2 separate regions of the Homo sapiens genome follow, and region 2 is linked to region 1. A link means that fine-mapping ties the variant in region 1 to the expression of a gene that starts in the linked region. Tissue or cell type: skeletal muscle. Region 1 holds a variant in brackets; the other region holds the start of a gene. All regions are shown on one strand. Distances are between the middles of the regions.

Region 1 (8,141 bases):
CTTTGGGTGCTCTTCTGGGTCGATGGAGGTAACTCCATTGGCCTCCCAGGCCTTTACTTGGGTATAATGAATCCAAGAGTCTATTCCAGTGACCCTCACTGTAGTAGGAGTAGAAAGAAGTAGTGTAAGGTTCCTTCCAATCTGAGCTTAGAGAAGATTAAAGGGAAGGTAGTACCTTTAGCAGCACCAGGTCTCCTGGGTTGAATAGAAGTGGCTCTGGTTCATGGGATTGGGCCTCTGACAGATATTTTAGTTCCTGTTGGAAATGAGCTAAAAAAGTAATGTGTTTAATAAAATCAGAAGTTTCTTGGTCTAGCAAGAAATCATTGCTGAGAAAAGGCTGTCCATACATCATTTCAAAGACACTTACACCCAGCTTTGAAGGGGTGTTTCTAATACATAGTAGGGCTATGTAGAGAAGGGTAGTCCAGTGGACATAAGTCTCCTGAGACAGTTTCCTGGTGTGCCTTTTGATAATACCATTTGTCTTTTTCACCTTTCCTGAGAATTGTGGTCTCCAAGCACAATGAAAATGGTACTGTATGCCTAGTGCCTTTGAGACCCCCTGGGTGACAGCCACCTTGAACAAGGGGCCATTATTACTCTGGAGGTACTTAGAAAGTCTAAAATGAGGAATTATGTTATTGATTAGTACTTTTATCACCTCAGAGGCTTTCTCTGTTCAACATGGAAATGCTTCTACCCAGTTAGTGAAGGTATCTATCCATACTGAGAGATATTGGATGCCCCTTGCCTTTGACATGTGGGTGAAATCCATCTGCCAGTCTTCCACTGGGTAGCCTCCTATCTTTTGGGTTCCTGGGGGAAGAAGCCATCACTTGAGAGGATTATTTTTAAGGCAAGCCTCACAAGCATTAACAGCTTGTTTAACCATTTGTATCAGGTTTTTACCTGAGAACAATCTCTGGACCAATTTAGGTTTTTTTCTTACCTAGTGGAAGGCCTGAGGAAGGCTTTTAAGAACTTTCCGTTGGTTGGCAGCTAGTAGATGAGACTTGCTGTCCTTCAATTGTAGCCACCTGGAAGACTAAACGGTGTATCCATGAGAGGTGGCCCATTCTATTTCTGCAGCAGACTATTGAGGTTTTATTTCCCTGATTGGGCCCTCTCAGATGAGTGGACCTTCAAGTGGGTCAGAGACCTGGGGCCCCCTTGCTGCTGATTTAGCTGCTTGGTCTGTCAACCTATTTCCCTCAGCCACTTCATCCATTCTTTTTCAGTGGCCTTTACAATGTATTACTGTCACTTCCCATGGGAGGAAAACCAAGGATAATAGTCTATTAATTTTCTAATGGCATTTAATGGGAGACCCATTAGCTGTGAGGAAGTTTCTCTCTTTCCAGATAGTGGCATGGGCATGGAGGATTAGGAAATTGTACTTAGAATCAGTATAAATGTTAACTTCTTTCCCTTTGCTTAATGCAAGCCCCTCGATGAGGGCAATTAGTTCGGCTAATTGAGCACTTGTGCCGGAGGAGAGAGGTGTGCTCTCAGCAGTATCACTCAGGGTAACTATTGCATACCCTACTTTATATGTCCCTTGTTCTACAAAACAACTTCTGTCCCTAAAGAGAATCCAGTCTGGGTTCTCTAAGGGAGTTTCCTTGAGATTCTCCCTCAAGGGAGGGAGGAAGTCGGCTGGATTTAGGAAGGGACAGGTTCTTAATTGGACTGCAGATTCCTCTAATAGCAGAGCTTGATATCTGAGGAGATCGTTGTCCATTAGCCAGAGACTCTTCTTAGAAGACAGCAGTCCTGCCACATTATGTGGAATGTAAGCAGTGAAGTTATATCCCATGGTTAACTTAGTAGCCGCTGATACCAGCAAGGCTACAGCTGAAACCACCCAGAGGCAGGCTGGCCATCTTTTAGCTACCAAATCAAGCTCCTTACTTAGGTAGCCTACAGGCTGCTGGGCTGGACTGTGGGCCCGTGTTAGAACTCCCAGTGCCATTCCTTTTCTTTCTAACACTAAAGATTGAACATCTTCCCTATGGGGAGACCAAGGGCTCCCTTAAGCAAGGCTTGTTTTAGTTGGTCAAAGGCCTTTCTAGCCTCTGGTTCCCAAATTAGACAGTGAGTTTTAGCTGTCTGAGTCTCCTTTATTAGGTGGTATAAGGGCTGAGCTATTTCACCATACCCAGGTATCCATAGTCTGCAAAATGCTGTAATGCCTAAGAATCCCCTTAGTTGCTTGAAGGTTGTGGCGAGGGGAAAGGAAGAGATGGCCTTAATCCTTTTTTCACTGAATGCTTTGGTTCCCTCTGACAAGACCAGGCCTAGGTACTTCACTGAAGCTGGCAGAACTGAGCTTTAGATTTTTTTAAACCTTATATCCTCTGTTAGCCAAAAATTAAAAAGAGCCTTACTGCCCTCCTGAGAGATTTCCTCAGAGCACAGAGGAGAATGTCATCTACATATTATAAAAGTTTAACCTGAGGATAAAGGAACTCAGAGAGGTCCCTTGACAGTGTCTGTCCAAACAAGTGGGGGCCATCTCAGAATCCCTGAGGTAACACTGTCCAGGTTAACTGGGTGATTTGGTTAGAGGGATCCTCAAATGCAAATAAATACTGAGAGTTGGGGTGTAATGGTATGCAGAAGAAGGCATCCTTTAGATCCATGACTCTGAACCATTTAGTTCCCTCAGGTATTTGAGCTAGCAGAGTATATGCATTGGGAACCACCAGGTGAAATGAGGCAGAGGTCCCAAAGTAGCCTCCATTCCCTGCTGGGTTTTTGTACCCCCAGTATGGGGATATTACAAGGGATGTTGCAGGGTTTGAGGAGGCCCTGCAAACTTAAGTTATCAATGACGGCTTCGAGTCCTTTCCTAACTTCTGATTTCAGGGGATATTGTTTCTGGTTATGATTGGAGGAGGGATCTTTAAGGTGGGCCCACACAGGTATGGTGGTTGTGGCTTGGCCAATCTTCCCTTGAATTGCTCAAACTTCTGGGTTAGTATTGGTTTCCTCTAGGGGGAGACAAAGAGTTTGTCCTGGGCCATCAGAATGGTGGTCCCAATATGGGCCAGAATATCCCTGCTCAACAGAGGAGTTGGGCTTTCAGGCAATTAGAAAGTCACGGGTGAACAAGAGATCTCCCCAACTACAACTAAGAGCTTGGAAAAAAAATGGGTTAAAGGCTTTCCTGAGACACCCCTCATGGTTGTGCTAATGGAGGAGAGGGGGTCTGGATTGGAGAGGAGAACCAAGAGACCAGCCCCAGTGTCCAAAAGGAAGTCCACTTTCCTCTCTTCGAATTCCAGAATTACCTAGGGCTCCTGGATGGTAATGGTGGTCTGGACCACTGGAGCTGGGGAGAGGAGCCCCAGGACCCATCAGTTCTGCTGCTGGACCATTTGGGAGATTGGTTCTGGATCCAGTGACCAGTGTCCCTGGGGACAGTCAACCTTCCAGTGGTCCCCATTGCAGATTGGACAGGGTTGGAGTGGCTTCCTCATGCTGCCTAGGCAA[T/A]CCTTAAAATGCCCCAGCTTACCACATCTGTAGCAGTTAACAGGTGCACCTTGGGAGTTCTGGGGTTTGTGGGCTTGCATGGTGACCATTAAGTCCTCTGCCTCTTTCCTGTGTTTCCTCTCTCTCTCTCCTGGGCCTCCCTATCTCTATTATAAAAGACTGAGGTGGCCACTTTCAGGAGGTTTTCTAAAGTACTATCTGGTCCAAGGGCCTGTTTCACAGCTTTCTCCTAATATCAGGGGCCGCCTAAATAATAAATTTATCTTTTAGGATTAGTTGCCTCTCAACTGAATCAGTAGATAGAGAGGTACTTTACCAAGGCCTCTCTTAGCCTTTCCCAGGAAGGTAGTGGGATTCTCGTCAAATATCTTGTCTCTCATAGATAGGTTGCTATAATTGAGAGGCTTGGTCCTAGTACTATGTAAGCCCTCCATTATACACACTTGAAAGTATCTCCTCTTCCATTCTCCCATCAGGCCTTTGGGATGCCATTTAGGGTCATCCACTGGTACTGCTTCTCTTCCATTTGGATAAAGTTTGACTCCTTCCCTGGCACTACATGTGATACAAAGCTCTTCCCCAAATTCCTTTACCACTTGCAGAGCAGTCTGCTTCTCCACTGTTAGTCAGGGTTTGATTCAAAAGTAACATAATGTCTTTCCAGAAGTGTTCAAATACTGAGGTTAAATTCTGGAAAGCCTCTATATATCTGTCAGGGTCATCTTAAAACTTGCCAGATCCCCCTTCATTTGCCTTCAGTCCTGTAGAGAGAGGGGACCTGGAACTTACTGGGGCCAAACTCGCCAGGCATCTGTTGGAAGGGCAAGAGTGAGACTGGGGCTTATCTAGGGTGAGGATTTCTAGGTGGGGGCAATTGAGAGAGAGAAGCTGGATAGGGAGGATGGGGTGGACCAGAAGAACAGGGCCAGAGGGAGCTGGCTCCTCTGCTGGAGGGGCCTCTAGGGTTAATTTCTTTAGTTCCCTGGGATTGCCCCTTGCAGCCTCTCCTGAGATGGCAAACAGAAGGGCTGGGTCAGTCCTAAACTGTCAGCAAAGGTCTGGATTACCCTGCAAGGTATAGAAAGCCTGCACGTATGGGGCCTCAGACCACTTGTCATCCTCAGGTTTACAGAAAAGGTCTAACTGTAGGTTGGTATTGAAATGAATGCTTCCTTCCTGAGGCCAAGCTAGCCCTTCCCACAGATCATAATTCAGCCAAATCTATGTGCAGAAGGCTATGAGGAATTTTTCCTCCAGAGTCTGAGGGTCAAAGCAGTCTCAGTGATTGAGGATCCACTCCAGGGAGTATAGACGGGGGGTGATGAAGATAGCTGGTTGCCCATTCTCAAAGATAGGGAGATAGGTGTCCCTCGTTTCCTTTGCTCCTTTCAGCAAAAACTTGGGGTGTGAGGGAGAGAGAATGTGGACATCCCCCTTTTCTCTTCTGTTTTTTTTTTTTTATCCCCAAGACTCAGTGACCTTAGATGGACACCATCCGTGGGTGCCATTGCGGCCAGCACCCATTAGGCAGGGAGGGCCTAGAGAGTAGGAGTTGTCTACACTCACCTATGCCTTCATCCCTCCTACTGTCAGCAACCTTTGGGTTACCTGGGCCCCATCTATGCCATGGAGCATGGCCTCCTCCCATGAAGCAGGGGCTTAATCATCAGGAAATAGTCCTGCCCATTTATACTGTGCCTGTTACCTTGCCTTGGATTTCTCCAATCTGGTTTTCCTTCTAGGGCTTCAACTAGAAGCTTGGAATCAAATTTGGGCCAAAAAGGTGTCTCAGGGGATGCGTGGGTCCATTTAGATTAATTCTCACACTGGTTTTGCCAAACTTGCAGTTCATAGTCGGTGGTGTCACTCCTTTGTTGCCTCCCTGTTATAAGCAGAGTGTTGAGGTAGGAGAAGAACCCTCTCGCATTGAAAAGGAAAGAAAAAAGAGGTTTAAGAGGGGGGAACTCTTGCTTTCTGCAAACGGGTTCCTTTAATCACTGCATCTCTCCCCCAGTTTGGACCAAGCTGAACTCCTTGGCCAGGGGAAGAAAGGCTCTGTGGGTGTATGGCAGGAGGGGATGGCGAGCAGGAAGCACTGGCCAGCTGGCTGTACAGGGTCCCTGGCCCCTGAGGCTGCCCTGGGGCCCGGGTGTCATGCATAGCTCACTCCCACTCTCACCTGGCTTGGCCACTGGGCACGACACATGCATGCAGTGGACATGCCCAGGCCCTCCAGCCGGGAGGGGAGCCACTGTGCACAGCATGTACCTGCAACTGTGGGGGTGGAGTGGGGATGGAACTGCTAAAAACAGACGGAAATCATATTGATCTGAATTGCTACCTGATGGCTGGGCCAGTCTCTCACTGTACTTAGTAACATGTCAGCAGTTTGCAGCAAAACCCTTAACACTATAAAAGAAGAGATAGGAGCCATTTCAAACCATGAAAGAAGGAAGGAAAGATACCATAGAAAAGTCTGGGGGTCTTGGCTGAACCTTAACAGGTGGTTGGGGACCAGGTTCAGTCATGTGGCCTTCTGGCAGCACCAAGGAGTGGCATTGGCCAGATGCCTTCAGTTGCCCCAGAACTTTATTCCAGTCCCATGCAATGGCTCCACTTTCATGAGGGGAAACAGAGCCAACATTCCTTTCACCTGAAAGAAACAGAGAGAGGGTACAGTTGCTTCCTGTCCCCTTCAAGTGCTTAGTTCAGAGGAAAGTCTGAAGACAGAAAGAAACAGATAGGGCAAATCTGCATTTACTCACCCTTGCAACGTACCCTGGGAAAGCCCCCAGATGAAATGCAAAATTTTCCTCGACCACTTCACGGGCCTCGAGACAGGGGTGCCTCATTTACTTGGCCTACAGCTCTCAACCCCCTGTGGGAGAGGGAGCGTGCAGGTGAGCAGGTGCAAAAGCTGCAGCAAGCACTTTTGGACACTGACAGGACCAAAACTCCATGCACCCTGGTGGTAACATCTAGGGGGTATGTACCCACGAACCTTGAAGCCTAAAAGGGCATACGTTACAGTGTGCTGTTTTATCTTTGCTGTCTGCAGATGGCTTAAGTGTTAACAGCTCAGTAGAAGATCAGTGTGACAGCCTTTTGCACCCACACCCAAGTCCTTGTCTGATGTCCAGGAGGAATGAGGTTGCACGAACAAATCGAATGGTGGTGAATGCAGAGGATTTTATTGCTGATGAAAGCAGCTTGCAGTGGGAAGGGGAGCTGAAAGGGGGATGGGGCAGGAAGGTGATCTTCCCCTGGAGTCTGGCCATCTCCAGGCAGACTCTTCTCTGAAGTCCTGCTGTCAAGCCATCCCTCAAAAGTCAAGCTGCTGCTCTTCGATGTCTGGCTGCTTTTTCTCTTCCCTCCTTCTCTCTGCCCTCTGCCAGTCAGGTCAGGGGCACAGGATGTGGGGTAGAGGCAGGCCATGGATGGTTTTTAAAAAGGCATCATTTGAGTGGGAAAAACAGAGATGTAAAGTTCTCTCTTTGGGCAGCAGTTCCAGGCTGGAAGGTGGGACCATTGCCAGAGACCCTGTCCTTTTCTGCCTAGAATTTCTCTGCATCCTGTGCCTATCAGTATTTTTCTAGTTATTGGGTGTAACACTATGCATGCACACAATATTTTACATTATTATTTTAATTTTATAAATGAGGAATCTAAGACTAGTAGAGATTAGAAAACTGCCTCAAATTGTCTGGGCGCAGTAGCTCACACCTGTAATCCCAGCACTTTGGGAGGCCAAGGCAGTTGGATCACAAGGTCAGGAGATCGAGACTATCCTGGCTAACATGGTGAAACCCCCATCTCTACTAAAAATACAAAAAATTAGCCAGGTGTGGTCGCACGCACCTGTAGTCCCAGCTACTCAGGCGGCTGAGGCAAGAGAATCACCCAGGAGGCGGAGGTTGCAGTGAGCCAAGATCGTGCCACTGCACTCCACCCTGGGTGACAGAGCGAGATTCCGTCTCAAAAAAAAAAAAAAAAGAAAGAAAAGAAAACTGACCCAAGTTTACATAGCAAGTGAATGTCTACTGTTGGTGCAGGCAGAGTTTAAATGTTTTTGAATTAGTTTCTAGTATTTCAGTATTAGACAATTTTTTATGCATGCTTGAATGAGGGGTTTCTAGTTAAAAAAAAAAAACGTAGCCCAGGAAGGGTGGCTGGCAGCTGAGCCCATGGGGCACAGGAGCTGAGTTGCACCAGCTGTTGCTCTGGGGTCCAAAAGGCAGGCCCACCCACCACTCTGAGGCCAACTGTCATGTGTACCTTCTCTGCAATGCAGCACGCATGAGGACAGTTCTGGTGGAGAGTGACCATCTCTCACACCAGTGTTCATCTCACACATGTCCACAATAAGACCAGGCTGGGCATTCCCTCAGGAATAGCCTCCTCTGAGTTTGGATCACATATATTCATCAGCAAATGTTTAATAGCGAGGTGTGAGTTCTTCATCAACAAAAACATGCTCTTTCATTCAGTAGCATTTAAAATAGAAGATACTGTTCTTCAGGTAGTTATTTTTACAATTCATTTTAGTAAAGATTTCTCAGGAATCTGATGACACCAATCTACAAGGTGGAACAATTTCTTTATATTATAACCTCTGGTCTTAATAGTTAGTTAGTTTCCCCTTC
Region 2 (8,141 bases), 680 kb after region 1:
TCATGAACTTGCTAATGAAACTTTAAAAAAATTACACATGGCTAAATATTGTTTTCTTATCACCTTTCTTCTCTTTCAAAGCAAATAAACACAAATAGGAGTGGGAAATAACTGTTTCAGGTCTGTGGTCATGCATTCCACAAGACCAATAAGAGGCATTTACCAGGTGCCAGACCCTCTGTGAGAAGATGAGGATTCAGGATGAAAGTCAACTACAGTCTGAGAGGTGAAACGGCAGTGTGGAATTGTAAAGTTCCTGAAGACAGTGCAAAAAACAGTGCAGGGAACTCCCACGAAGAAAGAAAAATAATGGCAGGATGACTTGAGAAATATTCGGATCTGCTTAGTGACCAGGTGCCCTTCAGAGTCTCTCAAAACTTCAGTTTCCTCATCTCTTGAATGTGGAGACAACGGTACCTTTAACGAAGTCGTGCGTATGACCTTAGGGGAGCGTTAGGTATTGGCAGTAAGAGAAGTCTGAGAAGGATGGTAATGTGACTTCAACATTCTAAGTGTGAGCAAAATATGATTTAGTCAACATGGGAATGAATACTTTGGCTCTAACCAAAAACTTCTGGGAAAGGGGTCCCAGGCAATATTGTTCTTCTCTCTGCCTTTAAAGAAATCACCTAGGTATGGGCTTATGGATCAGTCCATCAAAATTCATATAATGACAACCATGATAAAGTTGAGTAATTGTGATCACGCCTGTTTGCTCTTTGAAAACAGAATTATGTGTAATAAAAACCATTTATACTAGAGATCATTCCCTCATCTCAGTCATTCACAGAAATAAAAAGGAAAATGGGCACGGTGTGGCATTCAATGTACCTCCTTCTTCAAGGAAGAAATTGACCTGCATCCAAATTAAGAGCGCATTGGACACACTTAAGAATGCCATTGTTGACTGGAGGTGAGAGGGTCTGAGCAATAACCAGGAAGTTGTGCAAAGCCATCAGAAAGTCACAATGAGAGACACAGAGGGCCTCATGGTGCCATTTCTAAAGAATGACTTTGGTGGAAAGAAGAGAGATCATTACCAGACAAAGTGGATTCTCTGAATCTTAAACATAAAGTAGCAGAGGTGAGCACACCAGCAATGCTGGACCCACCAAGAAAGCACACTCACCATAGGTGAGTAAGACAAATGCGTGGTCCTGAGAAGCCAGGTATGGCAAACTGAAAGCCCCAGAGAGGCTGACATATTTCCCTGCTTCTAGATGAGAAGAAATGAATGGAGTAGAAGGAGGCAGAGAGGCAAGCTTTCCTCCTTGGTCTATAGAGTCCCACATGGCTACTCCCACAAAGTCCACAGATACACCCAGAGCCAAGTGGTGTGCTCTGAGAATCTGCGGCAGGTGAAAATACTGCAAAGTTGAATCCACACACACCTTAATGCCACAACGCTATATGCATTGATAATTACGGTATCAATTGATAGCACTCTCTTATACGGACCCACGGCATGGGCACCATCAAAACAATGTTAGCTGGAGAACTCACATATAGTAGGCGCATTAAAAGCCCTACCTTTAATCCTCACCACATGCTTGAAAGAGATTATGTATTCTCATTTTACAGATAAGGGGACTGAAGATTATGAAATTAAGTAACTTGCCTGAAGTCACACATCCAGCAAGACCCTAAGCTGTGGGTCCCACCCACTGCATGGACTGATACTGCCTCTTGATTTATTAAAGTAGGTAGGATGCAAATCGTAGGGAGAGAAGGCCCTTCTTTGAATGAGGGCCTCCGGAGACAAAAGAGATTTCCAAAAACCAGAAGGCAATTTGAAAAGAGATGAGCACACTGAAAAATCCTGCACATCTCACATCTCCCAGCGACCAGTCAGATTTCAGGCCTGCCTCAGTTACTTTGTAACTCAACTACTTCTTGATTTTCTAGACTGGGGGTGGGGTGAGAAGAAGTGTGCCAAAATGTGTTATGGCTTTAATCTTTTCTTCGGGATACTGATTTTATTTGCAAATGTAAATTTCAGGCAAACTGTTCTTGGGGAATGCAGCCAACAGGGCAAAGCCCACGTGGGGTATCAGCTCCTGCACAGAGACCCCACATGCAGCGGGTCTCACCGCAACCCAAGACATCCTTGGGGCAACCTCAAGGGGGCAAAAGGTGAGAGGGTTCAAGTAAATAGTTAGATGAGACAGGGGAGAGAAGACAAGAAAACCTGCCGAGTCTTAAACTGTTCTAATTACTAACTACCTTGATTCTGCTCTTCCAGGGGGGACCAACAGGCCCAACCCCACCCCCCACACACACAGGGCAGCAGGCAGATGGCAGTCTCTACTTTTTGCGCTTTCAGAAAATCTGAAAATCCGTGGCAACTGTAGGTACCTGCTGCTACAGTCCTGGAAGAAAATGCTATGATCTCCTTTGGAGAATTGGCCTTAGTTTCTCTGTCTCCTCTAGTGTGCTTTAAGAGTATGTGGGGGGTCTTTTTGTGAGTGTATACGTGAGTATATTTATGTCTAGATGCATGTACAGATGTGCATATACATGAATGCCTCCAGTGAGTATCCTCTGAGGGCCCCCTCTGGGGAGATAAAGGATCTTCAGGGAAAGCCTGAGTGTGTGAAAACCTCCTTGGAGCCCCAGTTAGCAGTTTCTAATCTACAAGTCATTTGTGAGACACAAGGCAGGGACCCCGGGCTGCTGCAGAAGAATTTGAGGTATGAGCAATGAACTCACAAACCATCCTTCACACTGCTAAAACGCAAAAGAAAGAAGACGAAGAAAAAGAAAAAGAAAAAGAAAAGATGCCCACATGACTGTTTTAAATTTGCTGAAAGGCAGAACCGACCACAGCTTATTTCAACCATCTTTATTTTCAATACAATAAACACCTTTAGGACAAGTCCCCGGCCACTTAAAAAAGACGGCTGTCCACCAGAGGCGTTCTCACTACCTTCGTGTTTTCTCAAACACTTGTTCAAAAACACATTTAAGTGGAATGTTTTCGTTTCTGGCGATTGCATTAATGATGGGTTTGCAAACCCTGCAAGCCCAGGAGGACGGCTGGAGCTGGGGGCTGCAGACACCCGGCCTTGGCCCAGCGGCCGCCGCGGGTTGGCTTGGCCGGCGGGGGCTTGGCTCAGCCCCCTCTACATAGCTCCTCGTTTGACACCGCGTGCGTTGGCCGGGCCAAGGCTGTCGCATAGAAGTTACAGCTCAGAAAGAAAAACACACAGCGGTCAACCGCGGTGACCCTCGCGCTCAGGAGCGCAGCATCCCTGCCACGAGGAAGAACCCAGAGGCCCCGCAGAGCGGGGAGCCGCCGCCTGCCTCCAGTTCTGTCCTGAGAAGGGAAGAAAGCGCTTCTCTAATAACACTCAGGCCCGTGAAGAATCATCTGTAACCTCATCTGCTTCTTCCTCGGCTCACTTACGAGGGTCTCTGGGAGAGTCAGACCCACGAGTGGGGCCCACGACTGGCAGCCCCTTCAGCCGGCGAGAGGCCCGGGATCCGCGCGGCGCACGAGCCCAAAGCGGTCGGGAGAACACGCTCCAGGCCGGGTCCCCGTGGGCGAGGTGGGCGCCCAGTCCCGGCGGGTCTGTCTTGGCCTTGGGACAGTCCGCGGGGCGGCGCCGGCGCTCCCAGACCTGGTTCCCCACAGGCTCAGGCCCAGCAGTGAGTGCGGGACACCCGAGCGCACCCGCAGCTCCCACTTGTCCGGGGTCTGCAGGACCCCAGGATCCTCTCACAGCCGGGTCAGAGCCCCCGAGGCAGGTGGGGTCCCAGCCGGGTGGAACCCGAGGAGCCCGTCGCAGCCGCAGCAGGACCCCGGCGGGCAGGGTCCCCAGAAGCCCATCCCAGCCGGGTCCCAGGCGCGCACGCTGCGTCCTACCTGCTCCAGCCTCGCCGGCAGGCGAAGGCTCCACGGCCCCCGGGGCCACCTGCTCCCCGTGCCCAGGCGCCTGGGCCTGGAGCGGGGCGCGGGGACCCGAACCCGGCCGGCTGCAAGAGGCGGCACCACTTGAGCTCCAGGTCCCGCGGGCCCGGGCTTACCGTGAGCGCCGAGAACTTCTGAGCGGGCACCGGCGGGAGCAGCCCAGCGAGCAGCGGCAGCCAGCAGAGCTGGGGGAGCAGCATGGTGGCGGAGGTGGCGGGAGCGGGAGATCGGCCGCGTCCTGCGCCCTGGCACTGCAGCCGGGAGAGCCCAGTGGGCGAGCGCGGCTGGGCGGGCGCGTGGAGGGGCGGCTCCGCGATGCTCTCCCCACCGCTCCCGGCGGCCCGGCTGGAGCAGCTCCCCTGCAGGCACCCAGAGGTCCTCCGCGTTCTTTGCGTCCGCCCTCGCTCCTGTCAAATACCCCGGAGCTTCCCGGATCCTCCCCTCCCGCCCGCCTCTCTCCCTCCCCCTCTCCTCCCCCAGCCCCACCTCCCAGCGCCCGCTGCCGCGCCCGCTCCGCTCCGGTGCCCGCTGCGGCCCAGAGGCCTCCCTGGCGCGGGTCTGCGGAGCGAGAGGTGGAGCGGGGGCCACCAGGGCTGCGCAGTGGCCTGTCCGGGCTGTCTCTGTGCCTCCTTCCCCGCGCGCACTCTCACACACACACGTGCACACTTACACACACGCACACCCAGGCACACGCACGCACTCATACCCACGCGCGCGCACCCTCGGGGGGCTTCCAAGCACAACCACGGGACGCACCGCGCCCTCCTCACGCCCCAGGGTCCAGGCCCGGTCCGCGCAGGATCAGCCCAGCGGGACTTTTCATCCACAAAGGTTAACGCCAAGCCTTGGCCGGTCCCCAGACTCCGGGGTTCTCCTTGACCTCTGCCCTCTAAGGCCCCCTGGTCCAGCCCAGAACATTGCCTCTCAGAGGTGCTGAAGGATCAGCGGCGCTCCAGCAAAGGCAGCTGGGAACACATGTCCAGGAAAGGCTGCGCCGGGGGCAGCCCGCCTTTGGCATCTTTACACGGGGTTATCCACTGCAGGGATGGGGGAATTTAGGTCCTAAAGATCCGGGGTCTGACCTGGGCTGTAGCCTTGATCCTCTCAAGTCGGGGGAGCATGTGGTTGGGCATCATTCACAGACACATGTGGCTGTTTTTAAACAGCTCTGTCAAAGCATTTCAGGTGTTTGTGCGGGGAGCACAGGGCTTGTGGAGGTTGTAAACTCACCCACGAAGACTACGTTGGAAACCAGGAAATTTTTGCACACCCAGACTCTGGATAATATCCACTGCAGACAACATTGCTGACATAGTTTAGCCTTGGCTTATAACTTTACAGGAAAAAGCCCTAATTCTGTCTCACACAGAAAGCCAGAAGAGTGAAGATTTGTTCAAGAACAATGAATCAATTGACTTGTCAGGGGCATTGGGAAAAGCACAAAACACAGAAAATCCAAATCTGAGGTTTCATCCGATGTCTAGCCCACTGCTTTGGCTATGAACTTTGGGGGAGGGGGCTGTATCAGCAAGTTCTGGGACTGGCTGCTGAGGCAAAGGCAATGCTATTGCAACCTTTCCCACACAATTTTATCAGGAAAGTGATGTCCGTCGGGCCACGGAAAGACGGGAAAGAAATGCACCTTTTCCTGAAGGAGGGCTACTCTCAGAATTCTCCTTAAAATTCCAAAGCCCAGGGAATCTATTAAGCACTTAAACACATTCCTCCTGGTTTAAGGACTTAGAAGGAAATTATAATAAAACTCTTGAGGGACTGCTCCTGGGTCCAGAAAAACAGGTGAGCAGAGCAGCTGCAAATGATTAAGTAAATAGGAATCACTGTTAGGGAACTGCAGTGAAAATTAAAGTAAAAAGAAAATAAACACTACATACCACTAATTCTAAGATTATCCAAAGAATAAAATTTACACTCGAAGCTGACATACTTCCTTTAAGAAGTATTTGCTACTAAAGAACCTGTTTTTCACTTTCCACTTTGTTGAGAGTACTGCTCGTCAGAACTCAAAAGTTTGAAAGCATGTTCATTTATCCACCATCGTCCGCTGCAAGAATGGCAGACAAGAAGCAGACTTAATTATTCCCATTCTACAGATGAGGAACAAAAGTCAAAGGGGCCAAATGTCTTAGCCAGATCTCCTAAGCAACAAAATCATAAACAGAATGCAGATGTTAAAACCTGCAATACTGGCAAATCCATGTCACTTCCTCTGGCAATATGGAGAACAGAAGAAAATCCTTGGCCCTCCGTGCCTTGTATTCAAGAATCCCAACACGTCTTTCATGTAGCAACTCCAGAATCCTCTGGGAACTCTAGGAAGATAAATGAAATGCATTTGTCCAAAACTCTGACAGATGAGGCAGGTTTGGAGCCTTTGAAACCCCTTTCAAATCTGGAGGAGCTCATGTGTCCTGAATGCCAAATTTTAGTTTCTCAAAATTCTAGAAATGGAGTTTGGAGAGATAATCAGGTTCCATTTTTATGGAGAAAAACAATACATTTATTTAAAACACTGGGAAAGAGTTATGTCTGTCTTTTATTTGTAAGTCTCCAAGAAAGTTATTACTGGCAGGAATGCCAGAGAGCTGTCATGTTAGAAAGGATAGAAAAGTAATTCACTCAGTTCAAAGTTAAGACAGGAAGTGATCAGCTCTATACTTTCCAGAGAGTTCCTCTAGGATGCAGGAAGAAGTTCCCCTCTCTTGGAAATGTAGGTTTTTTTGTTTTTTTTTTTAATTAAAAAGTGATGCAGGGCCCATTCTAAAATGTGGCTTATGCATTCAGAATTTAAATGCCTGTCACTGATGAAAGTTACAATAAAGAACAGCAAGAGAAACTAATTACCAAAGACTCCAGCTGTTTTCACATTTCTAAACTAACTTTCCCTCTTAGGCCATTAGCAAAATGCTTTATCATGAGTATTGGCTTCCTTTTTATTTATTTTACTATGCTAAAACTGCAAAAGGATTTTATTTTCATTATAGAAATGATATAATTTAGTTATTATTTCTGGCTAATTCATGTTTAGCCAGAAAACTTTTTGTCAGCTATTTTCCCATCTCAATATGCCAAGCATAAGTTTAGTCAAATATCTCTTTGTTGATGCAGTGACTTCCAGAAATCCCCTCTGCCATCACTCTGAGTATCATCTGGGACTGAACTCAGGTCACTGTTCATACTCTGAGAATCACCCCACATCATCAGTCACCTGCCAGTCACTTATTAATGTTTTCTCCTAGTTTCTACTTAATCATGGGAGCAGGAGTTTTCACCGTTCACCTGGACTTTCTTAGGTAAGTTCTGTGTGATTTTCCTTTTAGACTACCCCCAGGCTGGACCCGAGAATCTGTAGTTCCCCAGGTTTCTGGAGTCTCTGTCCTCTTGTTGGCTTGTTCATTCTGATGACTTGCATCTTCCTTTTAACTTGTTCCCTTCAACCTACGGAAAAATGATGCAGGATCCCCACATCAATCCCAGGTTTTTAGCCCAAGTTCTGCAGCTTCACAAACCTGTGAGCCATATAGAAAGGAAACCACATCGGCAGAGTTGACAAAATCAGAACAGAGCACCGCCGAGGCTCACCGTCACCGCGGCTGCAGGATGAGGCCAGCGTTGACACACCACGTTGAAAAGTGGACAGTGGAGTTGTGTGTTTGATCCTTGGGCCTGACTCAATGGCTTTCTTCCTATTTTGATATATTTAAGTAACAGAGAATTTGGACTTTGTGCTCAACAAAATAATTAAACAAGTTTCTTCTTTTTTTTTTTTTTTTTTGAGATGGAGTCTTGCTCTGTTGCCCAGGCTGGAGTGCAGTGGTGCAATCTCGGCTCACTGCAAGCTCTCCCTCCCGGGTTCACACCATTCTCCTGCCTCAGCCTCCCGAGTAGCTGGGACTACAGGCGCCCACCACCACGCCCAGCTAATTTTTTGTATTTTTAGTAGAGACGGGGTTTCACTGTGTTAGCCAGGATGGTCTCCATCTCCTGACCTCGTGATCCGCCCACCTCGGCCTCCCAAAGTGCTGAGATTACAGGCGTGAGCCACCGCGCCCGGCCTCTTCTTCCTTCTTAAGATGCCTGAGGACAATTTTTATGATAATACTTTTCAGGCACTTTGTGGCAAATTTTTAAAAAATAATTTCAGCTTTTATTTTAGACTCGGGGGCACACGTGCAGGTTTGTGACATGGACATATTGTGTGACTCTGAGGTTT

The links. PIP is the estimated chance that this variant, and not a neighbour inherited with it, causes the effect.
Region 2: it holds the start of SMOC2, and the variant in region 1 is fine-mapped to the expression of SMOC2 in skeletal muscle (GTEx, PIP above 0.99).

What each region holds. Positions count from the first base shown.
Region 1 is chr6:169,116,067-169,124,207 of GRCh38, reverse strand. No RefSeq gene overlaps it. Among named protein-coding and RNA genes, the nearest start is that of LINC01615, 43 kb to the left of the region's middle. The variant T/A (reference allele first, on the strand shown) is at 3,499.
Region 2 is chr6:168,437,340-168,445,480 of GRCh38, reverse strand. SMOC2 (SPARC related modular calcium binding 2) reads right to left here and starts at 4,297. Exons shown (of 13, transcript NM_001166412.2): 1 at 4,027-4,297. The coding sequence starts at 4,110.